5 separate regions of the Homo sapiens genome follow, and all the other regions are reported to be linked to region 1. The links are microRNA targets in miRTarBase. Many come from high-throughput screens and were not tested one by one. Region 1 holds a microRNA gene; each other region holds the end of a gene's coding sequence.

The links. Region 1 holds the annotated microRNA hsa-miR-6785-5p (UGGGAGGGCGUGGAUGAUGGUG, at 2,367-2,388, shown strand). A microRNA usually pairs through its seed, bases 2 to 8, with sites in the 3' UTR of a target mRNA and lowers its output. Matches are read on the target gene's strand: a 7mer-m8 pairs with bases 2 to 8, a 7mer-A1 pairs with bases 2 to 7 and ends in A, and an 8mer does both.
Region 2: the mRNA of ARL8A is a reported target of hsa-miR-6785-5p. Seed matches in the 3' UTR shown: 8mer at 806-813, 7mer-m8 at 1,198-1,204 and 7mer-m8 at 1,338-1,344.
Region 3: the mRNA of PRR12 is a reported target of hsa-miR-6785-5p. Seed matches in the 3' UTR shown: 7mer-m8 at 2,500-2,506, 7mer-A1 at 2,489-2,495 and 8mer at 2,108-2,115.
Region 4: miRTarBase lists STRN4 as a target of hsa-miR-6785-5p. Seed matches in the 3' UTR shown: 7mer-m8 at 542-548, 7mer-A1 at 777-783, 7mer-m8 at 857-863, 8mer at 940-947 and 7mer-m8 at 992-998.
Region 5: miRTarBase lists SLC35F6 as a target of hsa-miR-6785-5p. Seed matches in the 3' UTR shown: 7mer-m8 at 524-530, 7mer-A1 at 933-939, 7mer-A1 at 1,088-1,094, 7mer-A1 at 1,675-1,681, 7mer-A1 at 1,953-1,959, 7mer-A1 at 1,966-1,972 and 1 more.

Annotation. Positions count from the first base shown.
Region 1 is chr17:75,496,187-75,500,372 of GRCh38, forward strand. MIR6785 (microRNA 6785) reads left to right here and starts at 2,362; the gene lies at 2,362-2,442. TMEM94 (transmembrane protein 94) reads left to right here. Exons shown (of 32, transcript NM_014738.6): 24 at 96-285; 25 at 544-621; 26 at 927-1,012; 27 at 1,595-1,676; 28 at 1,989-2,137; 29 at 2,258-2,352; 30 at 2,443-2,536; 31 at 2,726-2,896; 32 at 3,076-4,186. The coding sequence ends at 3,148. CASKIN2 (CASK interacting protein 2) reads right to left here. Exons shown (of 20, transcript NM_020753.5): 20 at 4,075-4,186.
Region 2 is chr1:202,132,019-202,135,018 of GRCh38, reverse strand. ARL8A (ARF like GTPase 8A) reads left to right here. Exons shown (of 7, transcript NM_138795.4): 7 at 503-1,615. The coding sequence ends at 552. GPR37L1 (G protein-coupled receptor 37 like 1) reads right to left here. Exons shown (of 2, transcript NM_004767.5): 2 at 1,427-3,000. Among named protein-coding and RNA genes, the nearest start is that of GPR37L1, 11 kb to the right of the region's middle.
Region 3 is chr19:49,625,304-49,628,303 of GRCh38, reverse strand. PRR12 (proline rich 12) reads right to left here. Exons shown (of 14, transcript NM_020719.3): 14 at 1,865-2,843. The coding sequence ends at 2,697. Among named protein-coding and RNA genes, the nearest start is that of RRAS, 13 kb to the left of the region's middle.
Region 4 is chr19:46,717,789-46,720,788 of GRCh38, reverse strand. It overlaps STRN4 (striatin 4), which reads left to right. Exons shown (of 18, transcript NM_013403.3): 17 at 18-253; 18 at 451-1,278. The coding sequence ends at 187. It overlaps LOC107987269, which reads left to right and starts at 1,067. Exons shown (of 4, transcript XM_017027568.2): 1 at 1,067-2,143; 2 at 2,287-2,436; 3 at 2,813-2,990. The coding sequence starts at 1,726. RefSeq lists an enhancer at 2,380-2,429.
Region 5 is chr2:26,778,096-26,781,095 of GRCh38, forward strand. SLC35F6 (solute carrier family 35 member F6) reads left to right here. Exons shown (of 6, transcript NM_017877.4): 6 at 1-3,000. The coding sequence ends at 416. Among named protein-coding and RNA genes, the nearest start is that of CENPA, 6.5 kb to the right of the region's middle.

The DNA of each region.
Region 1 (4,186 bases):
GGACCAATGCACCTGGGCATGGTGGGAGAAGAGGGTGGGGTGCCCAGTCCTGTGGGAGATACAGCTGAAGTGTGTGTGTCCCCCACCCTGAGCAGCATTGCCCTGGATCCCCTGTACCCATCCCGTTGCTCCTGGGAGACCTTTGGCTACGCCACCAGCATCAGCATGGCCCAGGCCTCGGATGGCCTTTCTCCCCTGCAGCTGTCAGGGCAGCTCAACAGCCTGCCCTGTTCCCTGACCTTTCGCCAGGAGGAGACCATCAGCATCATCCGGCTTATCGAACAGGTGGGTGCTTCGGCAGGCAAAGGAGGAGAGACGCAGGACAGGACCCGCCTGGGGTGGGAGTAGCAGCAAAGGACCTGTTTGAACCCGGGGACCTCATTCCCCAGCCCTCCGAGCGGGCTCTCCCAGGCAGTTACATTCGCCTCTGCTCCCCTCGTAGAAGCATCCTGGGCGTCTGGCTCTTGGCTAAAGTGTGTCAGCTGTTGGGCCTGGGAGAGGCCAGGTAGACCCAGGCCATAATCTGTCCCTCTTGGTCCCTAGGCTCGGCATGCCACCTATGGCATCCGTAAGTGCTTCCTCTTCCTGCTGCAGTGCCAGCTGACTCTTGTGGTCATCCAGGTGAGGTGGGGCCCGCACAGGCATTGCCCCCGTGCCACTCACCCCTTCACTCAGGGGCCAGCTGAAAATCTGAGGAAGGAGGCTGGGGTTAGCAGTACAGTCAAGGGGTCCCCCCAGAGCCTCTGTGAAGCCCCTGGGCTTTTTGAGCTGACCCTCATTGGCAGAAGAGTATTCCCTCCGGCCCCTGTTCCCTCTGGCAGGATGTGAGCATCTATCTGGGCCCAGGGCAAGGGAGCTCGGGGGCTCCTATGCCCTTATTATTTGCCTGAATTGAACTGTGGCTCTTGGCTTCTTTCCTGGTCTAGTTCCTTTCTTGCCTGGTCCAGCTGCCGCCACTCCTGAGTACCACCGACATCCTGTGGCTGTCCTGCTTTTGCTACCCTCTGCTCAGGTGAGATGCCATGTATCTTCCCCACACCCCATGCCTAAGCAGGAGGTGTCTGGATGTCACTGTGCAGCCCCAGGAGCCCAAGGTTCTGGAACTGCTCAGGTCTCACCTCCTCTGGTACAGGAGGCATGGAGGGAACCCCCTTTGTCTTTTTTTTTTTTTTTTTTTTTTTTTTTGAGATGGAGTCTCGCTCTGTCACCCAGGCTGGAGTGCAATGGTGCAATCTCTGCTCATTGCAACCTCCGCCTCCCGGGCTCAAGTGATTCTCCTGCCTCAGCCCCCTGAGTAGCTGGGATTACAGGCACCCACTATCATGCCTGGCTAATTTTTGTATTTTTAGTAGAGATGGGTTTTTGCCATGTTGGCGAGGCTGGTTTTGAACTCCTGACCTCAAATGATCTGCCCATCTCAGCCTCCCAAAGTGCTGGGATTACAGGTGTGAGCCACTGCCGTCCAGCCTTTGTTTTATTCCATCCCCTCACCAGACTCGACCTCACGCGCAAGACTCCCTAGAGGTTCCCTCTATGAGAATTGAGGGACAGAGGGTCATTGTCACCATCCCTCTACCTGATCTCTGCTTTTCAGCATCTCTCTGCTGGGGAAGCCCCCCCATAGCTCCATCATGTCTATGGCAACGGGGAAAAACCTCCAGTCCATTCCCAAGAAGGTAAGCAAAACAGACCCTGTGAGCCTTGCAAGTGAGCATGGAAGGGACTGAGGATTGGGGGAGGAGAGAGGGGCTAATCTGGAAGGCTCTGGATGGGGGATTCCAGCAGAACTCCGGCACTTGGTTCCTAGTCTTCCCCCAGATCAAAGAGGAGGTAGTGGCACAGAGCTGGGAAAGACCCTTGCTGGGGCTTGAGCTCCCTATCCCCCCAGGCCTGACCATTTACTAAGAGCCCGTTGAATACGTGGAAGAGCTAGGAGCAGCCGGCAGAGGGGCTGTGCGCCCCAGGAGTGACTGGCCTTGTTCCCGCAGACCCAGCACTACTTCCTGCTCTGCTTCCTGCTCAAGTTCAGCCTCACCATCAGCTCCTGCCTCATCTGCTTTGGCTTCACACTGCAGAGCTTCTGTGACAGCTCCCGGGACCGCAACCTCACCAACTGCTCCTCCGTCATGCTGCCCAGGTGGGTCCCAGCCCCAGAGATCCACCCATCGCCTGCCTCGCCTCGAGGCTTCCTCCCTCCCCACCCCAGCCTACCTCCCTGCGGCCCTAGAGGGGCTGAGCCCATGCCTCACTTTGGCAGCAACGACGACAGGGCTCCAGCCTGGTTTGAGGACTTTGCCAATGGACTGCTGTCGGCTCAGAAGCTCACGGCCGCCCTGATTGTCCTGCACACTGGTGAGAGGGCTCCCTGGGAGGGCGTGGATGATGGTGGGAGAGGAGCCCCACTGTGGAAGTCTGACCCCCACATCGCCCCACCTTCCCCAGTCTTCATTTCCATCACCCATGTGCATCGCACCAAGCCCCTGTGGAGAAAGAGCCCCTTGACCAACCTCTGGTGGGCCGTGACAGTGCCTGTGGTGTGAGTATTGCTAGGATGGAGGGCGGAGTGTGGGCTGGGGAGGAGAGGGCCTTCTGCAGGGCTAGGATCGGAGGGCGGGACCGGGGCCAGTGGTTTAACTGTACCCTGCCTGAGCTAACTGTTGTACTGGGAAGAGCAGGGAAGGAAGCAAGCAGTGTCGGGTTCACACGGGGCCGCCACCTCCTGCAGGCTGCTGGGTCAGGTGGTCCAGACGGCTGTGGACCTGCAGCTGTGGACACACAGGGACAGCCACGTCCACTTTGGCCTGGAGGACGTGCCCCTGCTGACATGGCTCCTGGGCTGCCTGTCCCTGGTCCTTGTGGTGGTGACCAATGAGATCGTGAAGCTACATGAGATTCGGTGAGCTGTCAGCAGGGCGCCTCCCTCTGGGCTCAGGCATGTTCCCTAAACCTGTTACTCCCTTGGCGACACTCCCCCACCTTTCCGCTGCCCATCCCTCCCTCCTCCTCTGGTGTCCTGCCCCGGCCCCTGGTCTAAGGATCTTTGCCAACCTGTACTTTAATCTCCTGCCCCACCAGGGTCCGAGTCCGCTACCAGAAGCGACAGAAGCTGCAGTTTGAAACTAAGCTGGGCATGAACTCTCCCTTCTGAGCCACTGGCTGTGGTGGCTGTAGTTGCCCCCGTCCCTGGGGCTAAAGCCAGACCCATTTCTGAACAGGGGAGTTTGTATCATGAATGTTTCCAGGTTTGCTCCTGCACCCGTGGCACTGGAAACCCAGCTCCCCGTGTCAGACCCCGCTGTCTTCCTGAGCCCTGGGGCTCACTGTGGAGGAGCTGACGGCCTGGGCCCTTGGCCAGTCCTGGCTCTTCCCTGGGCCTCACCAGGGACACTCTTGAATGTATGGCCTCAGGCGCTCCCTAGAGGGGCCCTAAACCCCCTCACCTGTGAGCTACCCCCTTTAGGGATCCCTTGCCCCCTTGGAGATCCCTTGCCCCCCAGTGCCTCTGCTCGTGGGTCCCTGGACACGGCCTTGAAGCCAACCTTCTTTGGAGGAGCAACAGCAGCAGCCTTGGCCGACGCGTCCAACTCCCAAGGCTGCCGTGGAGGGCAGGGGGGTGGTGCTTGCCTGGATGTGGCCCCGAGTGCCTCCCCTCCCTCCCTCTGTGGGGGAGTCTCCCGCCTGAACCTGAAGATGGAGCAGGGCCCCCGCTTCGCCCTGGAGCCTCTTCCTGTGCCTGGCTCAAGCTGGCTGCCTGTCAGTCTTGGGGAATCTGGCCCAGGTCTCCTCAGCCTCTGCCCCAGTTCTGGGAGAAGTTTCTACTGGTGTATATTTTTTACTGGAAATGAGCCTTTTAGGAATGAATGTAGACTGGTTTGTATTAAAATGTGTCAATTGCTAAGAAATACCTGTGGCTGGTCTGTAAGGCCACTCCAGGGTCTGCCCACCCCCGGCGGTGGCTGGCAAAGGGAGGCCTAAACCTTCCTCCATCTACGCGGGTGGGTCCCTCAGGTCTGGCTCAGGCGAGACCCCTAGGGTCAGGGGTCCCCATGTCACAGAGGCAAACACACAGCCCAGTCACGTGGAATGGTGTTTTCATTGGTGTTAGTTGGGGGAAGAGGTTAATGGTTACAGAGCCAGGGCCTGGGCCAATGGGGTCAGGCTCTCCCTGCCCTCAGGTGGGCAGTCG
Region 2 (3,000 bases), not on the chromosome of region 1:
GTGGCCCAGATTCTGGGCACTATCCCAGCTTGTCGCCAAGCGGTTGTGTGATCTCGGGCAAATCGATCCCCGCTCTGGGCTTCACCTCCTCGTTTCTAAGATTCCAGGGCTGGACCCGGTGATTCTCAGGTCCCTGCTGGCTCTGACATGCTGTGGCTCTGTCTCTTTCCCAGCACCTGAATTCCGCTACTACTCATTCAGGGCCATGTGGCGCTTGCCAGCTCTGGACTTCTTGTTTGTTTTTGAGAAAGTGTCTCGCTCTGTCACCCAGGCTGGAGTTCAGTGGCGTGACCATAGCTCACTGCAGCCTCCAACTCCACTCCTGGGTTCAAGCAATCCTCTCACCTGAGCTTCCCATGTAGCTGAGACTCCAGGTGTGCGCCACCCCTCCTGGCATCTCTGGACTTCTGATACCCTTAGGTTTGGTTTCTTGGGCCTCTCTGCTGCCCCAGCACGGCCAGTACTTGCAGGCCTTATAAGCTGTTCTCTTTTCTCCTATCAGACATCACCCTACAGTGGCTTATTCAACACTCGAAGTCACGGAGAAGCTGAGACTCCAGCCCTTCTCCCTCAGACCAGGGACCGTCATCATCTAAACCTGAAGCCGAGCTCCCCGCCCACCCCTGTCGTCCCCCTAAGCCCACCCCTCCTCACCCAGTGTGAGGAGGGCCCTCTGGGGACCCCAGAGTCCTGTTCTGCTGAGGTTTGAACTCCTGTTTTTATTGTAAAATAAATTGCCCCCCATTCTGGTCCCCTAACTTCTCACCCTTCCCCGCTGCCTTTGTCCCATCACCCAGCCCTGCCTCCCTCCCAGCAGCCCTGGGCCACAGCCCCCGCCCCTGGCTTTTCCCCGGCCCGCTCTTGTACCTCCCTTTTCAACACTCTCTGTTATTGTCCTGTGTGTACAGTATATATATGTATATATATTTTAATTTTTTAATTTAAGCAAAGACTAAAATCAACCATTTGATGCTGCAGGGGCCTTTCAGGATCTGGGAGGGGGCAGTCTGGAGAGAAGGAGGGAGACGCAGGTGGACTTGGGGCAAGTTCAGATCAGAAGAGGTGCAGGCTGGCACCTGCGGCAGGTACCAGCCTGGGCACTGGTGGCCGCCTCCCTGTCCCGTGTGTTTCCACCGCCCAATCTGGCTTGTCCTGGCAGTGCTTGAATGCCACAGGCTGGCAGGGGCCTCTGGGGGCCCCTCCCCTCGACCCCCAGCCTGGGTAGAGCCACCAGGTACGACGACCAGGTACCAGAAACCACCAGGCACACGGGGCAGAAAGCCAGCGTCCATGCCCCAGCAGCCCCCTCCTGCCTGTTCCTGGCTCCCAGCTCCCGCCCCTCCCCAGGGCCCCCACCTCCACGGCCCACTTCATTTTCTGTTCTCATTTTGCAGAGTTGCACAAGGAGAGAACTCAGCATGGGGGGTTGGTTCTTTGGGTTCTGTTTGTTTATTTGTTTAATTTAATGATTTGTAAAGTGATGTTCCTCTTCCTTTTTTACACTTTTCAGCTCATATTTAACCTCTGTTTGGAAAATGATTCTTGTAACTGTACATTTTTTTGCTTCCTAATAACAATGACAACAAAAAAAATAAATGACCAGTTTTGTGTTGGGGGGGGTGTATGGTGCTGGTTACTTTTCCGCAGTTGGCATGGGTTGCCCTACAGGCCCACAGGGCCACCAGCACACCCCCGCACGCTGGGCACCAACAGAGCCACGGAGCGCGAGCACATGCCCGCCCGGGGAGCACAATGGCGCTGCACAAAACGGCCTCCCACACGTGCGTCCAGGCTCTTGCGCCACCTCCTTCTCATTCTCTTTTCAGACTTTCATGTAGTCCCAGCTTTGAGCCAGCAGCTGCCACTTGGGGCTGCAGAGCTCTGTTGAGGGAACTGCCCAGGGCTGGGTAGAGGCAGCAAGGGGACAGGGCTGGGTGCTGTTGTGTGCGAACTGAGCTGCACTCTCCTTAGGCCCAGTTCAGGCCTCAGCCCCTCTTTCCCAGGCCCTGGATCTCACCAGCAGCCAAGGTTGAGCCAGAACCAGAACCCTGTCCCTCCGGCCCCCAGTTCCTACCCCAGAACCAGTTAACTGTGCTTCAGGGGTAGGGCTGGGCCCACAGAGCCTGGGGGAGTGTCACCGCCTTTGCTGCCTCTCAGTTAGTGTCAATGCTATGGGTTTCCTGGTAGGAGCCCTGCCCTCGCTCCTCTGCTGGATTCTAGTCCCCCACCCGACCTCACCGTCAGAGCTGGTCCTCCCTCGGCACTGCTCACAGCTGCTGCCTCAGAGCCTGGTGACCCTGCCTGCTCAAATCCGAGGCCATCTTGACCCAGTTTCACAGTAAGCCCCACCTCCTCCCGCTCCACCTCCCTCGGCCTCTCCTTCACCCTGGAAAATGGAGCAGGCCCTTGCAGAACACCCCAGCCCTTCTCACCCCTCCCACTGCAGGAAAAAGGAGCCAAACTGTCCCTTAGTCCTGGGAGTGGGGACCTTGACTCCCCGTCCTGGGCCCTCCAGCCCCTCACCTTCATTGGTGCCCAGGGCTTCCTCCTGGAGGCAGTCATCAGACCTGTCAGAGCAGTTCCCTGCCTGGAGAGGCAGTTCCCCACTGCCAGAGAGTTGGAGGAAAGAATGTGGATGGAATTTGGCATCTGAAGCTAAGTGATTCTAGGGTACCTCCCAACTCCTAAGCAAAATGGGACATGTCCTCCTGGCTAAGGAGGTTGAATGGGAGCCAGGGCTCTATCCCCTGCCCTCTCCTGACTGCAAGCATGGCTAGGTTTTCCTGGGCCTGGGATCCCGGGAGAGGACCAGCAATCTCACTCATCTGGGGCTGTTTCCAGGCCAAGGTGCCTTTCTCAGATCCTGTGATCCTCACTGAGGATTGAGGTTTGAGATAAGAGAGCTGGTTACCAGGAAGCAAGCAAGCATCCTCCTTCCACAGTGCCGGCGTGCAGCAGGTGCTAATATGACTTAAAGAATTTGTTCAGGGGCCAGGTGCT
Region 3 (3,000 bases), not on the chromosome of region 1:
GATCGAGATTCCGTCAAAAAAAAAAAAAAAAAAAAAAAAATCTGTAACATGTGATGGTCTAGAGTCCAGATTTGTCCAACCCACCTTATTTTGTTGTTGTTCTGTTTTGTTTTAGGCTTTTAGCAGCCTGAAGCCATGGTTTTTAGTTTCTGTCTCTAGTAATAAACAAAAAAGAGGGATGAGGAAGGGGCTTTACTGGTACAACAGAAACTAAGAACCCATGACTGTATTCTCTCCTTGGACACCCCTGGAACAATACTCAAGGTTCTAGAACGATGAGGGTTCTCCCTGAATCTCACCTAAAAGGGCATCTGGAATGCTGATGTTCCACCCTCAAATCTCACACTGGGTCCCTACCCACGGACTAAGCCAGGGTTCTGGAACACCAGTGGTCCATCCATCCAGGCTCTAGAATGACAACAGCCTGTTCACTGCTTCATAGACTGGGTTCTAAAATATTGCCAGTTGACCTCCACATTTTTTATTTTTTGAGATGGAGTCTCGCTCTGTCAGCCAGGCTGGAGTGGTGCAATGGCACGATCTCAACTCACTGCAACCTCCGCCCCCTGGATTCAAGCGATTCTCCTGCCTCAGCCTCAGCCTCCCATGTAGCTGGGATTATAGACGCACGCCACCACGCCTGGCTGATTTTTGTATTTTTAGTAGAGACGGGGTTTCACCATGTTGGTCAGGCCGGTCTCGAACTCCTGACCTCAAGTGATCCCCCCGCCCCGGCCTCCCACAGTGCTGGGATTATAGCCGTGAGCCACCGTGCCCAGCCAACCTGCACATTTTTAACATTCTTGTTCTAGAACACGGTTCTTCAAACTTGAATGTGCTTGAGAATCCTCTCGGCATTTTACTAAAAAGTGGGTTCTGATCAAGTAGACCAGAGCAACAGCCTGAGATTCTACATCTTTTCCTTTAAGGGTGGGAGGAGGAGAAACAGCCCTATTCAACCTGCCCTCTCCTCGTCTGCTGCCTGTGCCGATTCTACATTTATACAAGTGCTTGGGGAACTCCAAGAGTGCTGTACCATGGACCACTCACTTGGATTCAAGAATACAGGACTTGAGGCCGGGCGCAGTGGCTCACACCTGTAATCTCTTTGGAAGGCTGAGGCTGGCGGATCACTTGAGGTCAGGAGTTCGAGACCAGCCTGGCCGACATGGTGAAACCTGGTTTCTACTAAAAATACAAAAATTTGCTGGATGTAGTGGTAGGCCCCTGTAATCCCAGCTACTTGGGAGGCTGAGGCAGGAGAATCGCTTGAACCGGGGAGGCTGAGGTTGCATGAGCCAAGATCGAACCACTGCACTCCAGGCTGGGTGACAGAGCGAGACTCTGTCTCAAAAAAAAAAACCAAAACAAAACACTACAGGATTTGAACTGGGTGTAGTGGCATGCACCCGTAATGCCAACTACTTGAGACTGGGGCAGGAGGATCTTTTAAGCCCAGAAGTTCAAGGCCAGCCTGGGTAACATAAAGAACACAGGGCCAGGCACAGTGGCACTTGCCTGTAATCCCGTCACTTTGGGAGGCTGAGGCAGGAGGATCGCTTGAGCCAGGGAGTTGGAGGCTGCAGTGAGCTATGATCATGCCACTGCACTCCAGCCTAGGTGACAGAGCGAGACCCTGTCTTTAGCTAAAAAACAAAAGAAACCCCCCAGTGATAAATATTTGTTGTCTGAAGTCATTAAATTTCAGGGTGGGATACTCTGCTGTGCGGGGACACAGAACATATGCCAGCCTCAGGCCCCCCACTGCCCAGGGCTCTGGGAAAGTCCCGTTCCAGAACCTCTGCCCCTGCTACCACTGCCACCCACTCCAGCGCCGCAGGACAGAGGCACTCCAGCCTGCCGGTAAAGTGTTTGCCGTTGGGTTTTCGTTTGGCTGGTTGTGTGTACACAGTGTATACAAGTTGAGTTGTACAGAAGCCCAAGAAAGAGCAAGAGACAAAGGGTAGTGGGAGCAGGGGGTGGGGCGGGGGCGAGAACGGGGAGGAGGGGAAAGGAGACCGATAAAAAATAGAACCACATCCAGACAACAATGGGGGATGGGCAGTGGGTGGGGGCCAGACACAGACAAATCGCCGTAGAAAAGGAGTGGGAGGGGCAGAGAGAGGGGACCCTTCTCCCCCCTCCACCTCCCCAAGCCCCTGCCCCAGGTATGTACAATAAATAAGATTAAAAATAATTAACAAGATGCGTTTTCCCCTCCCACCCGACGCCAAATGCCCTGCGGAGGGAATGGCCTTTAGCAAAGATCTTGGCCTGCAGGGGGGACTTGGGGGGAAGGGGTCCCCCAGCTCTCTGAAGCCACCCCACCCCCCCCAGCCATACATAGACTTTTCCTATACATTATGTACAAGGTGGAGGGGGCGGGGGCTGTGGCTGTGGAGGGGGGGTCGGGGCAAGGGGAGAGGGAAACCGTTACTAAATAGACATTTATACATATATATAAATAATTTCTCTGTACACCGAACAGTGGGAGGAATGGGGAGGGAGTGGAGGGGGCTTGGGAGAGGGGGGGAGTCGGACTTTGAACCCTGCCCTGGAGGGGGCAGCACAGACACACCCTGACCCATGACCCCCTTTCCCCGGCGATGGAGCCCAGGTGTTAGCTCCTGAGGACACGGTTCTGTCCCAATTCTCGGTTCATGGAGGAGGCGCCCCCCTCACAAGCTGGGGCGGGGTCACCCGCAGCGGCTGTGGGCCTGTGCTTGGGCCAGCAGGTCACTGAAGGAGTCAAAGAGCTGTTCCAGCCACGGCTGGTTCCGCATGCACTGCTGGACCACCTCCTCCTGGCCCAGGTCCTCGGCGCCGCCCTCGATGGCCAGGGTCTGCAGGGGTCAAACATGGCACTGGGGAGGGTGGCACACCGGCCTCTGGGGAGGGAAGGGGCTGGGGCATGGGGCCTGGGGTGTCAGATGTCAGTGTCCCAGGGAGACCAGGGCTGGGGGCTGCATTCTTAAGTCCAAGACAGAAGGACCTGAACTC
Region 4 (3,000 bases), not on the chromosome of region 1:
CCCCGACACATGTGCAGGCCATGACTGCTCCCTGCGTCTCTGGAGCCTGGACAACAAAACGTGCGTGCAGGAGATCACGGCCCACCGCAAGAAGCACGAGGAGGCCATCCACGCTGTTGCCTGCCACCCCAGCAAGGCCCTCATTGCCAGTGCTGGCGCTGATGCCCTGGCCAAGGTCTTCGTATGATGCCCACCTGGCCCTGCCCTGGCCGCCACGCTGGCTGGGGTGTAGGGCCGGGCAGGTGGGGCTGAGGTGAGGGCAGAAACCCCGCATTCTGAGTCTCTGCACGCCCATGCCTAGTACTGCCAGGTGTGCTGAGCCCCGCAGTCCAGTCAGGGGCGTCCTGTGAGAATCACTGGGGGAGCCCTGGGCATGCAGGGGAGGGGTTGAGGCCTTAGAGGCGCCCTAGAGGCGGCGGCTCAGTCTCCCCTCCCTTCTCTTTCCCGCAGGGGACTCCCAGCCTCGCTGGAGGTGCAGAGGCCTGGCCTCTGTCTGTTTGCCATGGAGCCTGGTGGTGCTAACGGCCCTTTCCCCAGGAATCCCTCCCCAACGGCTGCCTTCCCCAAGCATCCAGCCTGGGGATGGGCCCCTTTCAGGAATCACCCCCGAGGATGGCCTCGGGGTTTCCCCCTGTGCCCTGACAGCCGCTCCTGGTATCAGAGCTGCTTTCCAGAGGGCAGCACAGCCAGGGCCGGGTGTCTTTAGGGATCAGTTTTTCCAAGACTCCAGAAGGTGCCAGGTTCTCCCCTTGAGCTCCTGCTCCCCCATCCCCCATCCTCCCAGACCTGGGCAGGAGCTGTGCTGGGAGAAAGGGTGGCAGCCGGGAGCCTCAGAGCTGAGCCCCGGCCTGGCTGCCCCTCCCCTCCGGCCCTCTCCACTGCTTTCCAGACACTAACCAAGGCTTCCAGGCCAGGGATTGCCCAACACTCCTAGGGCAGCCCTCCCAGCGCCCCATGGGGTCGCCCATGGGTAGAGACGGCTTTCTTGTGCCCCTCCCTGGGGCATGGAGGGTGGAGTGGGCCTCGGGTCCCCCTGAACTCCCTGTATATCTGTATAAATAACGGGATTTTCATGGCGCCGCCCCACCCGCATTATCACTGTGTGATGGTCTCAGTCAGTCTCCTCCCTGTCTCCACTCTTTCCCTCTATTTATTTCACTCTCTTGTTTGGTTCTACCCTGCACCCTCGGTCCCCTTCCAGGTTCCTGTTTATAAGCCCCAACCCCTCTGTCCCCATCTTGTATGTGAAAACTTGTCTCAATAAACCCTTTGGAGTAAGATGGGTGACGGTGCCATCTGTTGAGGGCACTGGGGACTTTGGGGGAGGAGTGACCGGCTCTGCCTGGGTTGGGTGGAGTTTGGAGAGAGGGGATATGATGGGTTGGGGTTTTGTGGTAGGGCAGCAGGGGCCGGAGACGGGCCCAGAGCTTGGGTGGGGTGTGGGTGGAGAGAAGTGGAGGCACTGGACCGAATCTCCTTGTGCCCTTTCTGTCCCTAAGTGCTCCCTCCCCAGGGGTAGAGCCCTGGGGAGCAGATACTATGATGACAGTCCAGCTGAAGCCTCAGCCCCGCCTGGGATGTGTGAGGGTGGTGGCGAGGCCAAAGGGCTGGTGCCCAGAGGACGTAAACCCCCTTCCTGTTCCCATCCCAGGCCCACAAGGAGCAGGGAGGGAAAAGGCTGCACCTGCCAGTGGAGGATGATGGCTTTGGGGCGCAGGCTCCTCCATGCTGGGAGGAGGTGCCGCAGGTGCCCGAGCCCTCGTGGCTCATGTCCTGATGCGTCCCTCCTTTCCCTTCTCAGTGGTCCACGTCTACTGTACTGAGTGCTTTACATGGCATTTCACTGGGTCCACAGCCTTAAAAAGAGGGAGCAGGTGTCCACATGCTCCAGATGAGACGGAGGGGACCGCTGCTCCTGTCTCGAGGAGGCTTCCACCACCTACCAGCCAGGCGTCCTCGGTAATCCTAGCACCTCTGCCACAGGGCACTAATGCCCAGTTCCTGGGTTGTAAAGGGCTGTGCCCCAGTCCCCCAGCAGGCCCCAGTGAACATACGAGAAAGGATGGAGGCCGCTGTCTGGACACTCAGGACATGGCAGCGTTTTGCTGGGACAGTCATCTGCCCTTCAGGAAAAAGGGTGCAGGTGGGCAGGAGGCCCTTAGATGACGCCAAGGGGAGCCTTCGTGGGCTCCACGTGGTGTGCTCCCTGCCCATCCCTCTGGGCTCAATGCAGTTCCCCAGGTGGTGGTTTGGGTTTTCACTCCAGCCTCAGACTTCCTTCCTCAGCCCCAGCCCCCGGATGTGGTGACAGAATCGATACTGTACCGACCTCAGCTACCCCCAACGGCCGTACACCAGGAAGAGGGGCTCTTCTGGCAGCCCCCATCCTCAGCCAGCCCTGCCATTTCCAGTCCTGCCAGCATCCCAGCCAGACAGGTGGCCCTTCTCTTAGAGCTCAAACCTAGGCCTTGACTTGTCAATCAAAGGGGTGGGTGGGGCAGCTTCCCTCAAGCAACTTCACTCTGGGATCTTGGGCAAGACGTTTTGCTTCTCTGAGGCTTCAGCTTATTCTGTGTAAACTAAATGGTAGCCACTATTTGATTATTAGCTGGGGAGGAGAGATCAAGCCTGACCCCTGTAGCGGCTGGAGTTTTACAGCAGGGCCCACCCAGCACCCAGTAGGTCCTCACAGATACTTGCTGGGTGACTGAATGGGTGTGCCCACCCATCAAAGCCTGAGTGCTGGAGGTGGCCACCCCTTTCCGCGTATTATCAGAGACAACCACCTCTTACTGAACTGCTGCGTTTCCAGGCACCAGTATACCATGGCATCGGCTCCCACCATCCCATGTGGGGTCAGTCCTATTACAGTCCCAACAGATGGAGGGACTGAGGCTCACAGAGAAGCCACTCACCCAAAGTCACATGGAGAGAAAGACACGCACACGTACTCCACATCCCCAGGAGACACACTCTGCATCTATGAAGTGGTATGGGTGT
Region 5 (3,000 bases), not on the chromosome of region 1:
CCGCCGGCTCCTTCAGCGGAAACCCTCGTGGGACACTGGAGGATGCATTGGACGCCTTCTGCCAGGTGGGCCAGCAGCCGCTCATTGCCGTGGCACTGCTGGGCAACATCAGCAGCATTGCCTTCTTCAACTTCGCAGGCATCAGCGTCACCAAGGAACTGAGCGCCACCACCCGCATGGTGTTGGACAGCTTGCGCACCGTTGTCATCTGGGCACTGAGCCTGGCACTGGGCTGGGAGGCCTTCCATGCACTGCAGATCCTTGGCTTCCTCATACTCCTTATAGGCACTGCCCTCTACAATGGGCTACACCGTCCGCTGCTGGGCCGCCTGTCCAGGGGCCGGCCCCTGGCAGAGGAGAGCGAGCAGGAGAGACTGCTGGGTGGCACCCGCACTCCCATCAATGATGCCAGCTGAGGTTCCCTGGAGGCTTCTACTGCCACCCGGGTGCTCCTTCTCCCTGAGACTGAGGCCACACAGGCTGGTGGGCCCCGAATGCCCTATCCCCAAGGCCTCACCCTGTCCCCTCCCTGCAGAACCCCCAGGGCAGCTGCTGCCACAGAAGATAACAACACCCAAGTCCTCTTTTTCTCACTACCACCTGCAGGGTGGTGTTACCCAGCCCCCACAAGCCTGAGTGCAGTGGCAGACCTCAGCTCTCTGGACCCCTCCTACAGCACTAGAGCTAAATCATGAAGTTGAATTGTAGGAATTTACCACCGTAGTGTATCTGAATCATAAACTAGATTATCATAGTTATCTAGTTTATGAGTCATAAGCTAGATTTGATTCTTCAAAGAAGAAAAGTCAGTGAGCAAATTTAAACCAGAACTAAGCATTATATTTTCTTTTTTTTTTTTTGAGACAGAGTCTCGCTCTGTCGCCCAGGCTGGAGTGCAGTGGCACGATCTCGGCGGCTCACTACAACCTCTGCCTCCCAGGTTCAAATGATTCTCCTGCCTCAGCCTCCCGAGTAGCTGGGATTACAGGTGCATAACACACCTGGGTAACTTTTATAGAGATGGGGTTTCACCATGTTGGCCAGGCTGGTCTCAAACTCCTGACCTCAGGTGATCTGCCTGCCTCGGCCTCCCAAAGTGCTGGGATTACAGGCGTGAGACACCACACCCAGCCATAACTAAGCATTATGTTTTCTAAAACTTCTAAGATCCTCCCTAAACCCGTCTGGAGACATGGGTTTTAGCCCAGACTCTGCCTCAAACTCATTGTAGCTCCCAGCACATTACCCAGTTGCTCTGGGCCTTGGTGTTATGCTCTGGGAAGTAGATGTTGATGCTGTGGCCTTAGTGCCTTCTGGCCCCAGCATTCCATGGGCCTGTGATCTTGACCAACCTGAGAAAACAGTAACAGCCCATCCACTGGAAATACCCCTCTGCCCACAGCACCACCCTTCTGTGCTGTTTTTTTTGTTGTTTGTTTGTTTCTTCTTTTTGAGACAGAGTCTTGCTCTGTTGCCACGCTGGAGTGCAGTGGTGTGATCTCGGCTCACTGCAACCTCCCGCTCCCAGGTTCAAGCAAGTCCCCTGAGTAGCTGGGACTACAGGCGTGTGCCACCACATCCGGCTAATTTTTTGCATTCTTTAATAGAGACGGGGTTTTGCCATGTTGGCCAGGATGGTCTCAATCTCCTGACCTCATGATCCACCTGCCTCAGCCTCCCAAAGTGCTGGGGTTACAGGCATGAGCCACCACGCCCAGCCTTTTTTTTTTTTTTTTTTTTTTCTTGAGAGACAGGGTCTTGCTCTGTCACCCAGGCACAGCTTACTGCAGCCTTGAACTCCTGGGATCAATCAGTCCTCCTGCCTCAGCCTCCCGAGTAGCTAAGACTAACAGGTATGTACCACCATGCCTGGTTTATTGTTTTATTTTTTTGGCAGAGATGGGTCTCACTGTGTTGCCCAGGCTGATCTCAAACTCCTGGCCTCAAGCGATCCTCCCATCTCAGCCTCCCAAAGTGCTGGGATTACAGACCTGAGCCACCACACCTGGGCAACAGAGTGAAACCTGTCCCTGTTTTCCTGCTCTTACTCTCACCTCTGAGGCCTCCTCTGCCTGGAAGAGATTACAGGGAAATTCCAGGCAGCCCTTGTCAATTGTTTTTATGAATTCTTTACCTGTTCCTTTTAAAGACAAGGAAACTGAGGCCCAAAGTTCTAAGTTGTTTGGCAAATGGAGTCTCCTACCCTCAGCTCCTGCAAGGACCTGGGGGACCCCCAGGTCCAGCAGCCACATGATTCTGCAGCAGACAGGGACCTAGAGCACATCTGGATCTCAGCCCCACCCCTGGCAACCTGCCTGCCTAGAGAACTCCCAAGATGACAGACTAAGTAGGATTCTGCCATTTAGAATAATTCTGGTATCCTGGGCGTTGCGTTAAGTTGCTTAACTTTCATTCTGTCTTACGATAGTCTTCAGAGGTGGGAACAGATGAAGAAACCATGCCCCAGAGAAGGTTAAGTGACTTCCTCTTTATGGAGCCAGTGTTCCAACCTAGGTTTGCCTGATACCAGACCTGTGGCCCCACCTCCCATGCAGGTCTCTGTGGGGTCTTTGGGATGGATCTCCTAGGGCTGGGCTGGAAGCCTCATGTACTGTTGTCTTCTAGGTAACCACCCTGAAGAGAAGGGGTGGCATCAGGAACCGCAGGGAACCAAGCAGCCTTTGGTCCAGTGCTGCTCCTTGGAACAGTTGAGTGTGGCCTCAAACCATTCTCCTGGGTAGCTCAGTCATAAAACACCGAATGCCTGCCTCAAAATAGCCTCTGAGGGAAGGGAGCTGTTGACAAGTGAAGCCCTCAGGTTGTGTGGGATTCCAGCAGGTTATTACAGCTTGTGGGGGGAGGGAGGGTCCATTCCACCAGCTTTGAATCCCAGGGTCCCCTCAGCTTCACTGGGCCACAGTGTCTGTCCCAGGAAGAAGCAAATGGACAGTGAGGATGATGGAGAGACTACAGCTGCCTTGTCTAAAACCTGGGATCTTA